Linked DNA regions of Homo sapiens: region 2 is linked to region 1. Evidence: fine-mapped expression QTL. A gene starts in region 1. The other region holds a variant in brackets. All regions are shown on one strand. Distances are between the middles of the regions.

Region 1 (8,324 bases):
GGTGTTGCTTTTGGATTAATTGCCTAGGACGAAGAAAGCCTTGCCCAGAGATAAAGGGAAACGTGGGGTTTCGTCATTACAAATTGTTCTGAAATCTGCTCTGGCGCTGGGGGCAGAGGCCAGGATTTGGGTGCTCAGCTGGTCCCCCCACCCCCAACCCAGGTGCAGGCAGGTGGCCAGCAGGGCGCTTGCCCAGGGCACGCTAGCGCAGCTTTTCCTGGGCAGGTGGGCAGGAGGGAGGCTTCCCGACAGTGGAGGCAGCTGTGTGCAGTGACGGCAGCTGTGTGCAGTGACGGCTGTGGGCCTCACGCTTTTCAGATGAGGGAACAGACACCCAGGGCAGTCTAGGGACAGAGCTCACCAAGGCCAAGGTCAAGGGGCAGAGAGCGGAGGGAACTGGCCTCTGCCCCCCTCCCTGCACCTTGGAACTGGGGATCCAGGGGGTGTTGGCTGCCGCCCCTACTCCTGGGTGGCCACAGCGTCTTTCCTGTTCCTGCCTGTACACCCCACGTACAAATGCCCCTGCGAATTGAGGATAGTCTATATTTACCGAGGTTGCAGAGGTACCCCTGGGGTGCTGAGCCCCGCTCCAAGTCTTCGCTTAGAGTTGATGCGTGAGTGTCCATGAAATTATACAAGGAAAGAGCTTGGCACCTGGCGCCATCGACGTCGCTGTAAATGTCAGCCGTTACTACTACTACTAAATAACAACGACGGCGATCGCTGCGTGCCTGCTGGTGCCAAGCCCCGGAGGGGCCCCGGACACGCAGCCTGGGTGGGGATGGGTATGAGGGGGCAGCGCTGGACTCGGCGAAAGTTTCTTCCCCTCTCCAGTCCCCTACCCAGAGGAATGGCCAAGGCCTTTCCCGCCCTCCCTGGGTGCCAGGGTCTTGGGGAGGGGCGGGAGGCAACCAGTCCCGGGCAGACGTCCGGCCACCCGCCCCTGCTGCGCGACGGCCCCCCTCGCTCGGCCTATTTGGGGCACCTGACTCACGGTAATTATGAGCCCGCGGGCACGTCGGGGCGCGCCGGGAGAGGCCGGATGCACCGGCTCCGGGGGCGACCGGACATCCCAGGCCGCCAGGTGCACCTTGCTTCCCACCAGCACCTCCCCGCACCCGCCGGGAGCTCCCCGCTGCTTCCGCCAGGGGCCCCGGGCTCACCTCGGGGCGCCCACGGACTCCCAGACGCGCGCCTCAGCATGGGGTGCGAATGTTTCGGGGGCGGCGCGCGGGGCGCGTCTGCCTCCCGCACAAAGCCAGGCTCTGTCCCGGGGTCAGCGCCTCTGTCTCCCGGGCCTGGGCGGGGACGCCCACGCCTCCTCCGACGCGGGAGTATATTTAGCCTCATTATCAAATGTTTGCAGTGAACTGTGTGAACCGACTAATAGCGGCTGGAAGTGAAACTCGATTCCTGGCCAGAAAGAAGCATGTGACCGCCCCCGTCTGCAAGGATCGCGGCAGGGCGGGCGGGGCAGGTGCCGCAGCCTCCGCGCGCAAAACCCGCCGGCGGGGCCCGGGTCGCACCGTCCCCTCCTGGGCCGAGCACCTGAAACCCACCTCGTCCCTCCGTCCCCCTCCCCAGGGGCTGCAATGAGGACGCTGGGAGTTTGAATGGAAACGAAGGCCGGGGAGGGGGGTCCGCGCGGGCGTGGGTTTTTTATCCAAGTCGGTGACCTCTTGGTTAAGTCAGCCCTGCGGTTTCAACGCCCAATCCCCCCAAAAAAGCCTGTGGGGGTCCACGTCTCCTTGTGTCTTCCGGGGATCCGGCGGAGAATGTGGCGGGGCCGGGCAGGGGGGTCCCAGTCCCACGCCGGGTGCGTCGTGCCCCGAGTCTCCCCAGAAGGCGGCTGTCGCGCGGCTGCACAAGTTTTCGCCTCCCTCGCGCGGCCGCTGTTGTTGTGGTCGCCATGGCGACGGGTCGCGGTTTTATTTTTAATAGCGGCCGGCGATTAGAGAGATGCCTGCACCGCTTTCGCCTAAGCTCTGCGTCCCCCGCGGGTGAAGCACCCACGCCCCGCCCCAGCCCCCGCCTCGCTCCAGCGCCCCTTGCACGTCCCCAGGTGGCCCTAAACTCTAGCTGGGCGCACCCGTAGCTCCAGGCCGGGCAGGGGAGCCGAGGGAAGCAGCCATCTAGGCCCTCAGAGGCGGCGAGGACCCCCAGGATCCCTCAAGCTGGGAGGGACGGGTACCCCATCCCCAATACAACGCGACCTTCCTCCTTGCCTTCCACACCGTCTTACCGAGTCCTCTAACCCCACAGAGGTGTCCTCGGGCCCCCTCTGCGCGCGAGCAGTCCGAGGCCCAGGAAGACAGGATGCGCGCCACTCCGGGATAACTGGCCGAAGAATGAGGCCGGGGTCCGGCCTGCGTCCTGGCCCTGCGAGTCCGGCTCTTTCCAGAAGCCATGCAGTGGGTGTCCCCTCCCAAGCCGCAAGTTCCCCCTGGAGGGACAAGGCCTGGCTTTAAGGGGCTCCTCCACGTTTCCAAGGCTCCCCTGGTTCTGTCCCGGTCCCGCTTGGTCCTGACCACCCAGAGGGCATGCTTGACCGCGGGGGTCGTGGTGTGGGGCTGCGGCCAACGGAAGGGAGAGACGTGGGGAGGGGGCCTGCAGGTGTGTGGAAGGGCGCGTGTAGACGCGACCCACTGGGAGCGGAGGGAGAGGCGTCGCTCCCCAAATATTTGGGGGAAGGGGAGAGCCCCCGAAGCGCTCTCCGGATTCGGCCTTTGAAATGCTAGAGCTGGCCTAGCTGGGGATGAAAGACCGCCCGCGGGGCTGCGCCTTAACGGCCTTTGTCTGGAGGGAGGGCGACCGCGACGGGGGCAGGGGTTTAATCGACAGGGTTGGGGGTGACGGCTGGGCCGGGCGGGATTCTCCGCTGCTCACCCAAGGAAGCGTCTCCTGGGCTCCAGGGGCCTAGGCCGTCTAGCCTCGGGGTCTGCACAGCACGCCACCCCGCTGGACCCGGTACCAGGACGCGTAGACCCCCTGGCAGGGCACTGACGAGCACCTGGACCTGTAGTCAGGGTCCAATCCCTCCTGGTCTAGGGAGGCGAAATCCATCCAGCCCAGGCGCACCCGCCCTTTCTCGGCGTGGGAGCCGTCTAGCCACGCTCAGACCTCGGCCTCCGCGCGCGTTCCTCCCCCGCATCGCGCTCTGAGCTGCGCCTCGGCCGGAGGTGGCGCTCTGTGCGCCCCACGGATCCCGACGCGGGAGGCTCAGAACCCGGGGGACCCTCACCGGTGGCTCCTTTCCCTTCCATCCCCTCGACTTCCCGGCTCAGGGCGCGGCCCTGCCTTCGGCGCGGGAGTGGGGGACTGGGGGGCGCGGGGTCCCAGGGTGGGGACGAGGCGGGCTGCAGGCCCTTTCCCCGACTGGAGCTCGCTCCCAAGTGGAAATGTGGGTGGAGGGTCCTCATTCAGATGCCCCAGGCCTCGGATCCTGGGCGGGGGCGCGTGGCAGCCGCCAGGTGAGTGCCCCAAACCCGCCCCCCTCCTTCCCCAAAGACTGACTCCCCCTCCTTTTATGGAGAGAGGAAGGCTGGGGCCCTGGATCCGAACCGTGGAGAGCGGCCGGAGCGCCGGGGCGGGGGCGGGGACCGGCTCTCTGGCCCTTTTTGGCGCAGCAGCTCTGGGCGCTGCCCGCTGCCGCCGCTGGGGCCCGAGAGAGGCGAGCCGGCGACGGCGGCGCTTCTGCGGCGGCCTCCTCCCTCCCCACCCGGTGCCGCAGGATTGCAGCTGGCACTGGAGGGTGGGCAAGCTCGAGGGAGGGGCGCGGAGCCCCGGCGCGGAGCCGGGCGCGGGGCTTTGATGGATTTAGCTGCTTGCGCGAGCGCGTGTGTGCTCCCTGCCGCGGCGGCGGCGCCCGGGCCCTGCCGGGTCCGCACGAACCCCGAGCGCTTCCGAGGTGCGGGTCCCAGGCCCGGAATCCGGGGGAGGCGGGGGGGGGGGGCGGGGGCGGGGGCGGGGGAGGGGCGCGGCGGCGGCGCTATAACCCTCTCCCCGCCGCCGGCCGGCTCCACACGCGCGCCCTGCGGAGCCCGCCCAACTCCGGCGAGCCGGGCCTGCGCCTACTCCTCCTCCTCCTCTCCCGGCGGCGGCTGCGGCGGAGGCGCCGACTCGGCCTTGCGCCCGCCCTCAGGCCCGCGCGGGCGGCGCAGCGAGGCCCCGGGCGGCGGGTGGTGGCTGCCAGGCGGCTCGGCCGCGGGCGCTGCCCGGCCCCGGCGAGCGGAGGGCGGAGCGCGGCGCCGGAGCCGAGGGCGCGCCGCGGAGGGGGTGCTGGGCCGCGCTGTGCCCGGCCGGGCGGCGGCTGCAAGAGGAGGCCGGAGGCGAGCGCGGGGCCGGCGGTGGGCGCGCAGGGCGGCTCGCAGCTCGCAGCCGGGGCCGGGCCAGGCGTCCAGGCAGGTGATCGGTGTGGCGGCGGCGGCGGCGGCGGCCCCAGACTCCCTCCGGAGTTCTTCTTGGGGCTGATGTCCGCAAATATGCAGAATTACCGGCCGGGTCGCTCCTGAAGCCAGCGCGGGGAGCGAGCGCGGCGGCGGCCAGCACCGGGAACGCACCGAGGAAGAAGCCCAGCCCCCGCCCTCCGCCCCTTCCGTCCCCACCCCCTACCCGGCGGCCCAGGAGGCTCCCCGCGCTGCGGGCGCGCACTCCCTGTTTCTCCTCCTCCTGGCTGGCGCTGCCTGCCTCTCCGCACTCACTGCTCGCGCCGGGCGCGCTCCGCCAGCTCCGTGCTCCCCGCGCCACCCTCCTCCGGGCCGCGCTCCCTAAGGGATGGTACTGAATTTCGCCGCCACAGGAGACCGGCTGGAGCGCCCGCCCCGCGGCCTCGCCTCTCCTCCGAGCAGCCAGCGCCTCGGGACGCGATGAGGACCTTGGCTTGCCTGCTGCTCCTCGGCTGCGGATACCTCGCCCATGTTCTGGCCGAGGTTGGTGCCGCCCCCGCGCCCCGTCCCTGCGCCGGCTCCTCCGGCGCACACCCCCCGCCGGCTGGGGCGCCACGGGCTCTGCAGAGAGCGTTTTGGTTCCTGCCAGGGTGGTCGATGTTTAGATTTTCCCAACTGGGTTCTATTTTCTGCCATGCCTAAGTGTGTGTGGGGAGTTTCCAGCGTGTTGCGTCGGTCGCTCTGCCTCGGGGGGACCGGGGAGCAGCGAGGTGGACGAGTGGGCAGAAACTTCGGGGGGCGCAGTGTCCTCTCCGGGGAAGGGGAGCTGGGGCGCAGCGGGCGCTGCAGCAGCGGGGTGCGGGGAGCGGGGAAGGGGGTGTGTGTGAGCCGGCGGAGCCTGGGGAGGAGAGAAGGGCGGCGGATAAATAGGTAGGGGCGGCTGCTGCGGAAGCCCCTGGCCGGGCAGGGTGGGCAGCGCCAAGCTGCAGCCCTCGGTTCCCAGTCCCCAAGCCCGGCGGGGCTCAGGGCCGGCGCAGTCCCGCCCGCCCGGGCCTGCTTACAGGTGGCTGAGCGAGGCGAGCTGGGGCTGGGCCAGGCGTCCGCACCCTCCCACCGCGGCGTCCCCGCCCCCCCATCCCCATCCCCATCCCCATCCCCGGGAGCTTTGCTGTGATGAATGACTTTCCACAGCCCCCGTCGTGGGAACTTAGTGCTTCAGGCTCCCCAGCGACCCCCGACTCTCCTTAAAAATCGGGGAGGGGAGTGGGGGAGGCCAGAGGTGAGGGTGGTCTCCGCAGGGCACGGAGAGCTGCGCGAGGTGGAAGTTTAACCCTCGCTTTCCCTGGAGGCTTCTTCTCCCGGCCGCCGGCTGGATTTGGGCGTCTTAGTCGGCGCTAGGGCCGCGGCTGGGCCGGAGCCCGGGGTGGGGCGAGTGTGTGAGTGAGATGTGTGTGCGCGTGTGTGTGTCTGCGCGCGCGTGCGTGTGTTTGTGAGACGGAGAGACCTCTCCACGGGTTCGGCCCGGGATTCCGGGGCGTGAAATTTAAGCCCTGCCTGGATTAAAGTGTTAGGGCTGCCGTGACTCTCGCCGACCCGTGACGCATTTTAACTTGATCTTTCTAGATGTTGATCTCACTATTAAATCAGAAACTTTCGGCCCCCTCGCTGCCCCCTAGACCTTCTGTAACTGACACCCCGGGTGGAGGGGCCGGAGTGCGGGGGCTTTTGTCTGAAAATATAAAGGGGGGGGGGCTTTGATTTTGCAAAGGGCGGAACATGGATGCGGGTGGAGAATTTGGGGTCTCTTCCAGCCCCACCCCCGGCTTCTGGTTCCAGGGCCGGGGCGAGGGCTCCGCGGGGGCTGGGGCGGGGACTGCGGCCGGCGCTCGCGGGGTCTCCTCGGGCCCGGGGCGGCGGCGCTCCTGGCGGCCGGGGGCGCGTGCCGGCGGGGTCGGGGCCGCGGGCGCTGACCGTGTGGCCTCTGCTTGCAGGAAGCCGAGATCCCCCGCGAGGTGATCGAGAGGCTGGCCCGCAGTCAGATCCACAGCATCCGGGACCTCCAGCGACTCCTGGAGATAGACTCCGTAGGTAAATCGCGCCCCTTCCCTCCGCGCGCGGGGAGGGCGCGGGCGGGCGGCCTGTGCGCCCCGAGCTGGGGCCGGGCGGGGCGCCGCGCAGGAGCGCACCGAAAGGTCAGAATCCAATCCCCAGCCATAAGCGCCCGGGCGGATGAGTCAGGAGTTTCTCTTCCAGTCTCCACTTTCTCTCCCAGCGGCGGCCGAGGGCTGCTCGCTCGCCCCGGGATTGTTTTCGCCTTTAAGGAAAACGCCGCGTGTGTCACACAAAGTTCAGCCGCGGCCTCCGCCAGGTGTGCGGGCCCCGCGCCTGCCCTCGGGCCGGGGGAGCGGCAGGATCCGGCCCAGACCCTGGGCGCAGAGCCCTGGCCCGTGCGCCGGGCGGGCAGCCCGCGGAGCGAGGCCCCAAGGGCAGGCGCGGCTCCCGGTCCGACGGGCGGGCGGGCGGAGGCGGCCCCCGGGTCAGGGCCCGGCCCCCTCTGTAATCCCTGCGAGCTGGTGCCGCGTTCTTGCCGCAGGGCTGGGCCTCTGTGGCTGCAGAAGCCGGTGTCTTTCTGTTTTCACGACCCAATGAAAAGCCTTGGACGCATCTGCTGCCTGGGGGCTATTTTTGCGGCTCACCCTCGGGCCCTGGGGCCGGGCCACTAGAGAACACAGCTTGTTTGCAAGCACAGAGTTTTGCTGCGGGTTGGCAAGGGTTAAAGGGGCCTCTCACCCCGGGGGACCCCGGTGGACCACGGGTGGGTGGGAGGGGCGAGGGTGTAGGGTGGCCGCCCGCCCGCTCAGGGCTAGAGAGCCCCTTCCTAGAAGGCGAGGTCTCTCTTCCAGGCGTGCGTGGCGCTCTTTTCAAAATGAGCACTCGGCCTGGGAACTCCAGTCGGAGCCTTAACCTGGTTTAAAAAGGGGCTCTGCGATGAACTTGTTAAAAAGAGTAACTAAAGGCAGCAGAATTGGAAGAAGTTACGTGACATGAAGATTCTTCTCTCCCTGCAAAGGACTCTGAAAAAGGGGGGGCATGCGGGGATTAAGTGAAATCACATGGTCTAGTCATTTGGAAATTTGTACCTAATTATGGTGGTGGAGAGGCCTGAACTATTTTCGTTTCATGCCAAAACCATTTTCTAACAAGGCCGATGGTTTCTGTAGTTTCTTGACCCAGGAAATCCCTGGGCTGATCCTTATCGGGGGCGGAGGGTGGGGGGTGCGGTAGAGTTTCACTCCCACAGCACAGCTGGGCGGGGGGATTTTGACCGGATCCCTCAGTGGATAACTCTAGGGAAAAGGATCTGGCTCTGGTTTGTGGGGGGGAATCCCTTGCCTGAATCTCGCTGGTCCTGGATGGGTTTGGAAAAGTGGGGGGGGGGGGCTGCTTCCTGGAGAAGGTTTCAGGGCTTTTTCTGGGGGGGGGTGCTAGCAGAAGGGGAGGCTTGTGGAGAGCTGGGCCTCCTCGTGGGACTGGCTTTGGAAGCTGCAGGGAAATGGGCCATTCACTTTCTGCTGGGACTATTCTTATTCTGGTCTTGGCGCCCCGCCTCCTCCACCCCCACCCATTATCGCCTTTAGCATTGCAGCTTCGTGGGGTATGCTGATGGCATTCCTCACCCGGGGGCTTCTAGGTCGTAGGGTCCGAACAGAAAAAAACAAGGATGCCCCTAAGCTAGTCCTGGCCGGTTTCAAATTCCCTCTGCAGTCATGTCCCAGGAGCTCTCTCCTCCTGCCCCAGGGAATGCAGAGTGGATCTCAGCCCTCCTGTGTCCGTGAGAGGTTTTGGGGTCTGAATAGGATTCTCCTAGTGTCTGGGAGGCTTTGTGTGTGAGAATATGGGGGTGGCATCTACCTCCTCTCTTGCCCCTGGTGGGGGACC
Region 2 (8,324 bases), 34 kb after region 1:
AAAGTACCTCCAGTAGAATGTTGACTAGAAGTGGCTGAAGCCGACATCTTTGTCTTGCTCCTGATCTTAGGGGAAGAGTTCTAAGTCTTTTGCCTTAGCTAGCTGTGGGTTTTATGTAGATGTCCTTTATTAGGGTGAGAAAGTTCCCTTCTATTCCTAGTTGTTGAGTGTTTATTTATTTTTGTTATGAAAAAATATTAGATTGTCCTTTTTTTGCATCAGTTGAGATGATCATGTGATTTTTATTTTTATTCTGTTAATATGGTATATTACACTGATTTTTTTTTTGTATGTTGAACCACCTTTGCATTCCTGGAATAAATCCCACTTGGTCATGGAGCACAGTCATTATTTTTGTATGTTGCTGGATTTGGCTTTTTAATATTTTATTTATTTAATATTTTTATTTATTGAAATTTTGTGTGTCTATACATGAGGGATAGTAGTCTGTAGTTTTCTTGTGATGTCTTTGTGTGGTTTTGGTGACAGGTTATGACTGGCTTCACAGAATGAGTTCTTTCCTCTTCTATTTTTTCAAAGAGTTTGGGAAGCATTTGTGTTAATTCCTTTTTAAATATTTGGTAGCATTCACCAGTGAAGCCATCTGGTCCTGGGCTTTTCTTTGTAGGAAGTTTTTTGATTACTAATTCAATCTCTTTGCTTACTATAAGTCTTCATATTTCTTCGGGCCTCTTTTTCTTGAGTCAGTTTGTGATTCTAGGAATTTGTTCATTTCATCTAGGTTATCTAATTTCTTGGCACACAATGTTCACAGCATTCCTTTATTATTTTTATTTCTGTAAGGCTGATACTAATGTTCCCTCTTTTCATTCCTGAGTTTAGTAATTTGATTATTCTGTCTACTTCTTGGTCAGTGTAGCTAAAGTTTTGTCTATTTTATTTTTTTCAAGAACCAACTTTTGGTTTTGTTAATATTCTCTATTGTTTTTCTACTCTTTATTTTTAAAATTTATTTCCCCCGTAATTTTTTTTTTTTTGAGACAGAGTCTTGCTATGTTGCCCAGGCTGGTCTTGAACTGGGCTCACGTGATCCTCCTGCCTCAGCCTTTCAAGTAGCTCTCTAATCTTTGTTATTTCATTTTTCTGCTTGTTTTGGGTTTGGTTTGGTTTTTTTTTCCATTTTTTAAAAGATGGAAGATTAAGTTATTGATTTGACGTCTTTTCTTTTTTATTTTAAAAAATTAGGAGTTTCTAGCTATAAATGTCCCTCTAAGCACTGTTTTAAGCTGCATCCCATAAGCTTTGGTAAGTTGAGTTTTCTTTCATCTCAAAGTATTTTCTGGTTTTCGCTGGGATGTCTTCTTTGACTTATTGGTTATGTAGGAGTGTGTTGTTTAATTTCCACATATTTGTGAATTTCATAAATTTTCATCTATTAATGATTTCTAATTTTATTTCATTATGGTCAGAGAACATACTTGGTATGATTTTCATTATTTTGAATTTATTGAGACTTCTTTTATGGCCAAACATATGGTCTATCCTGGAGAATGTTTCACGTGCACTTGAAAAGAATGTGTGTTTCTGGATGGGCGCAGTGGCTCACACCTGTAATCCCAGCACTTTGGGAGGCCAAGGCAGGCGGATCACTTGAGTCAGGAGTTTGAAACCAGCCTGGCCAACATGGTGAAACCCTGTCTCTACTAAAAATACAAAAATTAGCCGGGCATGGTTGGGCATGCCTGTAATCTCAGCTACTCAGGAGGCTGAGGCACGAGAATCGCTTGAACCCGGGAGGTGGAGGCTGCAGTGAGCTGAGATTGCACCACTGCACTCCAGCCTGGGTGACAGAGCGAGACTCCATCTCCAAAAGAAAAAGAATGTGTATACCTTTATGGTTGAATGGAGTGTTCTGTAGATGCACATAAGATCGAGTTGGTGTATGATGTTGTCCAGGTCTTCTACTTGCTGGTTGATCTTTGGTCTAGTTGTTCAATTTCAATTTGTTTTTGTATATCGTCCTTAGATCCTGCAACCTTGCTAAATTCACTTATTAGTTTTAGTAGAATTCTTTTGAAATTCCTTTGAGTTTTCTACATACATGATCATGTTATCTGGAAATAAGAACTGTTGTATTTCTTCTTTTGCATTCTGTATGCCTTTTATTTCTTTTTCTTGCCTTGTTGTACTGGCTGGGACCTCCAGAACAAATAGAAGTGACAATAGAATGGGCAATCTTGCTTTATTCCTGTTATTAGCTAGAAAGCAATGAGCCTTTCAACATTGAGTAAGATGTTAGCTGTAGCTGTTTTGTAGATGCCTTTAATGAAGTTGAGGAGGTTTGCTTCTCCTATTAGTTTTCTGAGAGGGTTTTTTGTTTTTCTTAAATCATGAAAAGTTGTTGAATTGTGTCCATTTTTTTTGCATCTATTGCATTTCATTGTATGGTTTCTGCATCTGTTAAAATTACCATGTGATTTTTTTTTACATAATTCTATTATTGTGAATTACATTGATTAGTTTTTCAAATGCTACATTAACCTTGCATTCCTGAGATTAACCCACCTTGGTCATTAAATACGTTTCTTTTTATATTGATTCTACTTGTTAATCATTTGTTAAGGATTTTTGTGTCCATGCTTAAGTGGGAAATTGTTCTGTAGTCCTCTTTTCCTGTGGTGTCTTTGGTTTTGAATCAGGGTTTTTGGAGAGTCACAGAAAGTTACAGCCACACAGAGACAAACACATAGACACAAAAACACATGGAGCACCACACACATTCACGTACAGGCACACACATTCACATACAGGTTCACACATTCACACACAGGCTCATGCATTCACACGCATTCACATGCAGGCACACTCACTCACGTGCAGGTCCACACACAGGGACACACATTCACACACAGGCTCACGCATTCTCACGTAGGCACACGCATTCACATGCAGGCTCACACATTCACACACAGGCTCATGGAGTCACACGCACACACATGCTCACACAGGCATACACAGTCACACGCAGGCTCACGCAGGCACACGCAGGCTCATGCAGGCACATGCAGGCTCACATATTCACATGCCTCACACACAAGCGCGCCTCACACACAAGCACATGCATTCACACACAGGCATACACATTCACATGCAGGCTCACATAGGCTCACACGGGCACACACATTCACACACAGGCACGCACACATTCACACACAAGCTCACACACAGGCTCATATAGACACCCTCGAGGATGCTTCAGTCCGACGCGGAGTCAGGAGAGCTCGGACTCACTGAGGACCCTGCTATGGTCTGCAGCTGTGTTCATTTATCAGCTGGGACAGTGTGGGGTGCTCCTTGGACGCTGTCTGTTTCTCCCGCTCTGAGAAGAGCCCTGCCCCGGTTACGAATCCTTCATGACCGTGATTTCTGCCGCTTCCCGGGAGTCATCAGGGTACAGGGATCCCGCCTCCTGACAGTGCCCTTCTGCGGCCCTGTCCCTGTTCTGTGGACGAGGACACAGCCATCCAGGGGTGGAGCCGTGCATTCCAGGGCCCTTATCCTGTTCAGCCACCCCTCCCTCCCACAGCGTCCCCTCCCTGCCCCACCTGGCATTGGCCCCAACCCCCAGCGCCCTTCTTGGTGGCGGGTGTGGACTGCACAAGCTTGTGGCGATGGAAAGCTGGGCTGGGGCCAGACTTGGTGAGAGGCCACGAGAGCTGGCACTGAGGGGCCCTCGCAGTGGGATGCCCTGCCAGGCTTCTGGGGCCATGTCCCTCCTGTGGCTGTCCAAGCCCCACAGATGGCGATGCAGTGTGTACGTCCTGCAGCTCCTCGTGGCCTGGCGAGTCACAGCCTGTCCTGTGTTGATTTTGCTGCTCAGCAAGGG[A/G]TGTGGGCAGATAGTGTCACAGTTATTTATCAGGAGGCAGAGAACCCCTGGCAGAAGTGGGTCTTGGGGAGGCTAGACTCACTAGAGCCCCAGCCTGGGAGCTGTGGCTTGCTGGCCTGCAACCGTGGACCCCAGCCCCTGGGGGCCCTGGAAGCCTGTTTCTCCATGATCAAGGGCCGTTTTTTGCGAGTGTTTGCAAGGGAGGAAGGGCTTCCTGCAGGATCTTCCCGTGTGATGTCTCTATGGGCTTTCTCCTGGGACAGGGACCCATCAAAGGTGGGAAGGGAGGGTGGTGCTGTCCGGGGAGGTAGGTGAGGGGACCACAGTCTGAGGTCCAAACTGCAAAGGGTTCACCCCGTAGCCTCCTCCCTCCTTCATTCCCTCCTTTCTTTTGTTCTCTCCCTCCTCACCTCTCCATTCGTTTTTTTGGAGCTACTGGGGCTGGAGCCGCCTCCTGGGATTGTGGCAGCCTTGGAAGATGGGTCCTCCAGTGAGAGCCTCGGGGCTGGGAGGAGAGGCCCAGGGTGCCGCAGTCCCAGTCCCAGGGTCATGGGGGGCCCTCGAGCGCGGGGGACCCTGGGGCCTCTGTGCAAGGGATGGCTCTGGGGCCCTGTGCTGATGGAGGACTCTGTGTTTACCTAATGAGGGGGTGCATGGGGGTTGGCAAACAGCCCTTGACTGCTGGCGGAGGCTGTCGGCTTGGGTGGCTTCCAGAGGCCCCTCAGCCCTGCATACCTTCCTCCCGGGCTCCAGTCCCGCCTCCCCCACCTTCTCGAACACAGACCTGCAGCGACCCTGAACAAAAGGAAATCCCTAAAGCTAATGTCCATGGGGGCTGGTGGGAAGTGAGCAAGAGTGGGGGTGGGGTCAGGGCCCTCGGAAGCAGGGGTCATGCGGGAGTGGGAGTGTCCCCCTGCCTGCCCCAAGCCCAAGGGGAAATACCTGAGTGAGCCCTGGCCCGTAGGAGGCGTGTGAGGAATGTTCCAAAAATCCTAGGCTGAGTGAATGAGGCCCTCACCCAGGCAGGGTCTAGGGCCAGGGACAGAAAGGCTTGTCTGAGGACACACTGGGAGCCAGCCCGTCTTTGGGTGACCCCAGACGTCACCCCAACCTGGATTTCCAAACCAGGTCCCCCAAGGCTCTGGCCCTGAGCAGGTGGAGGAGGGGAGGGGCAGGCAGACACAGTGTCGGCTTGGGGGAACGGGGTTGGGGGTACGGCAGAGGGACGGTCCCACATCTAGAGGCCAAATTCAGGACAGCCTAAAAAACACCCTCCGGAAAAGGCAGCCCAAATCATCTCATGTGCTTCTGAAATTCTTGCATTTTCCCCCTCAAAATCTGTCCTAGTTATGCTTGAGATCTCCTGACCCCAGAATACTTTTATTTATGACAGAAAATTCATCTCCATGGCAACGCCTTAGGAAGCTGCAGCCTCAAGATTATAACTTCCCAAGCAATGAAGACAATAAATGGATTTTTCACAAAACGGCTAAGAGCGACTCTGGCAAGAACCGGCCCCTCTCTGCAGTCTGGGGAGGGGGGGTTGGAGTTGAGAGGGGTGAGGGGACAGAAGGAGTCCCTAGGGCTGAAGTAAAGCCCACCAATGTGGTGGGTCTGAGGGAGGAAGCTTCACATTGTCTGTGTTCCGGCTTTTAAAGAGCAGCGCACTTAACCCCTTCGTCAAATCAAACATGACCCTGGGTTGCCCTAGAGGCCCTGAGCGAGCATCACCACATCAGGCCTGGCAGGCGCCTGCACACTGCAGTGTCTGAGCCCCTCAGCCACCTCCAAAGCACACATTTGTGCCTTGTCTTCACTGTCTGAGAAACAGGCATGGAGGATGAAGGAGGTCTCCTTGTCCCAGGGAACCACAGGAGCCTCTCTCTGGCAGCCTTTAGGGATCCAAGGCTGGAAACCCCTTTGCAAATAGCTTGGAGCAGCTTTCCAGGCTCAGCCCAAATTCCACAGTGAGGGGGCAAGTACTGGCCAGTTCCAGCAGAGATACTTCCTCAAATCAGATGGTGCGCATTGCAGGGGCCTCAGTTGGACATCAAGGTGGAGCCATCCCCCTGGTCCTAGTTCCTGTCATCCATCCATCCACTCATCCATCCATCCATCCATCCATCCATCCATCCATCCACTCATCCATCCATCCATCCATCCATCCATCCATCCATTTTTTAACCCATACCCGCGTATTTCACCGCCAGTCTTCCCATCCCACCCATGTTGTGCAGCCCCTTTGTCCATGATACCGAGGCTGTCCCTTTATCCCCGCCCGCCCAATATCCCACGGGTGGGGGGGCCAAGGACTGGCCCAGGTCCCCGCCAAAGTTCTTCCTCAAAATCAGGATGGACCCATTGGCAGGGGCCTCAGTTGGATATCAAGGTGGAGCCATCCCCCTGGTACTAGATCCTCTCATCCACCCATCCACTTATCCATCTATCTATCTCTCTATCTATCCATCCATCCAACTATCCGTCCATCCATCCATCCAGTCATGTGTCCAACCATCCATCCATCTTCTATCCATCCATCGAACTATCCACCCATTCATCACTTACCCATCCATTCACTCACACATCCATCCATCCATCCATCCATCCATCCATCATCTATCAGTCCAACCAACCATCTATCATCCATCCAAGTATCCACCCACCCACCCATCCACCCATCTGTCCAACCATCTATCATTCATTCAACTATCCACTGATCTACCCATCCATCCATCCATCCCTCCATCCAGTCAGTCATGTGTTCAACCATCCATCCATCTATCATCTATCCATCCATCAAACTATCCACCCATTCATTCACTTACCCATCCATCCATTCACACATCCATCCATCCATCCATCCATCCATCCTTCCATCCATCAATCCATCCAACCATCTATCATCCATCCAACTATCAACACACCTACCCATCCACCCAACTGTTCCAACCATCAATCATTCATCCAACTATCTACTGATCCATCCATCCATCCACCTATTTATCTGTCCATCCAATTATCCACTCACTCACCTACACATCCATCTACCCATCATCTACTTACCCTTTCACCCTTCCATCCACTCATCCATTCATTCATCTATCTAACAATCTATCATCCATCCAACTATCCACCCACTTGCCTACCCATTCACCCATCCGTTTATCCAACCATCAATCTGTTCAGCCGTCTATTATTCATACAACTATCCACCAATCCACCTATCCATCCATCCATCCACCCATTCATCCATCTATCCATCCATCTATCCATCCAACTGTCCTCCATCCAACCATCCATCCATCCATCCATCCATCCATCCATCCATCCATACAACATAAGTTCTTGAGCACCTAACAGGGACCTGTCACTCTGCCAGACACCATGAATTTCTTGCCTTCCTGGAGCTAACCATTAAGAGGGAAATTTAGACATTAATCATACACAAAAAGGAACATAATCGTAGACTGAAGTAAGTGCCTGAAGGAAATGACAGCAGTGACTAGTGCTGCTTGGGGGCAGATGGGGTGTTAGATGCTTTAGGTTTTAATTCTCACAACCACCCATGGGTAGGTGCTGCCAGAGACCTATGCTTCAAAAATGGAGAAGTTGAGGCACAGGCTCAGGAAGGATCTTACACCAAATCTTGTAAGTGGAGGAGTCAGAATGTGAACTTGGCCCTTCTGAGTTTTTAATCTCTAGGCTATTCTGCCTCTCAGGTGGGTGGGGAGGGTCCATAAGGGCCCCTGATCTGGTCTAGTGGGATCTCTGGAGACTCCCCACAGTGTTATTGAACCCAAGGACCAGCAAGGGATGCAGGTGAAGCACAGAGAAGGTGGCACGCAGGAGGACCACCGCATGGGTTGTGCTCATTCAAGGCAGGAGGGCACTAAGAAGCAGGACCAGCCCCAGCGGTGGGGAGGGGAGGGTGGGGAGGGGAGGAGGTTGGGGAGGGGAGGAGGGTGGGGACAGGAGGAGGGCGGGAAGGGAGGGAGGAGGGTGGGGAGGGGAGGAGTGTGGGGACGGGAGGAGGGCTGCCCACCGTCCTGGCCCCCCAGAGGCACCAAGCCCTGCAGATGAGCTGCGCATGAGAAGGAGAGAGAGATTTATTAAGAGCGGTTCGCCGTCAGTATCCAAACCTTCACAAGTTAGACAGAGTCGGTCTTCACTGGAGGGGGCATTCCTGGGCCCAGCTGCTCTTCAGAGCCTGCTGGAAGCAATTAATTAGCGGGACCAGGTACCTGTGTCCTGCCGGGCTGGCCCCACCTCGGCCTTCCTCTGGAGCTCCTGCAGCCCCAGGGAACCTGTCCCCAGCTCACGGATCTGAGATCTGCAGGGGCTCACACTTAAACTGTGGTGCCCTCTGACCTGGCCTGATTTCCATGGGAGCCCATGGCCTGAGGGGAGAGGAAGGACAGTGCCAGGCTTCGGAGAGGGGCTGTTTTCTTTTCAGGCTCCCTGGAGCCCTGGCCAGCTG

Direction of the effects. Alleles are on the strand shown, and positions count from the first base shown. SD is a standard deviation of normalised expression in the study named.
As copies of A replace G in region 2, the expression in unexposed skin of the gene that starts at base 4,021 in region 1 goes down (small effect, 0.32 SD a copy in GTEx).

What was found. PIP is the estimated chance that this variant, and not a neighbour inherited with it, causes the effect.
Region 2: its variant is fine-mapped to the expression of PDGFA in unexposed skin (GTEx, PIP 0.98). The same link has a PIP of 0.9 or more in sun-exposed skin.

What each region holds. Positions count from the first base shown.
Region 1 is chr7:515,543-523,866 of GRCh38, reverse strand. It overlaps PDGFA (platelet derived growth factor subunit A), which reads left to right and starts at 4,021. Exons shown (of 6, transcript NM_033023.5): 1 at 4,021-4,928; 2 at 6,377-6,473. The coding sequence starts at 4,866. PDGFA-DT (PDGFA divergent transcript) reads right to left here and starts at 3,476. Exons shown (of 3, transcript NR_033963.1): 1 at 551-3,476. RefSeq lists silencers at 917-1,226, 1,547-1,686, 1,807-1,886, 3,552-3,891, 3,992-4,081 and 3 more and enhancers at 1,542-2,463, 4,308-5,229, 6,152-7,074, 7,744-8,245.
Region 2 is chr7:481,116-489,439 of GRCh38, reverse strand. No RefSeq gene overlaps it. Among named protein-coding and RNA genes, the nearest start is that of PDGFA, 35 kb to the left of the region's middle. The variant A/G (reference allele first, on the strand shown) is at 3,848.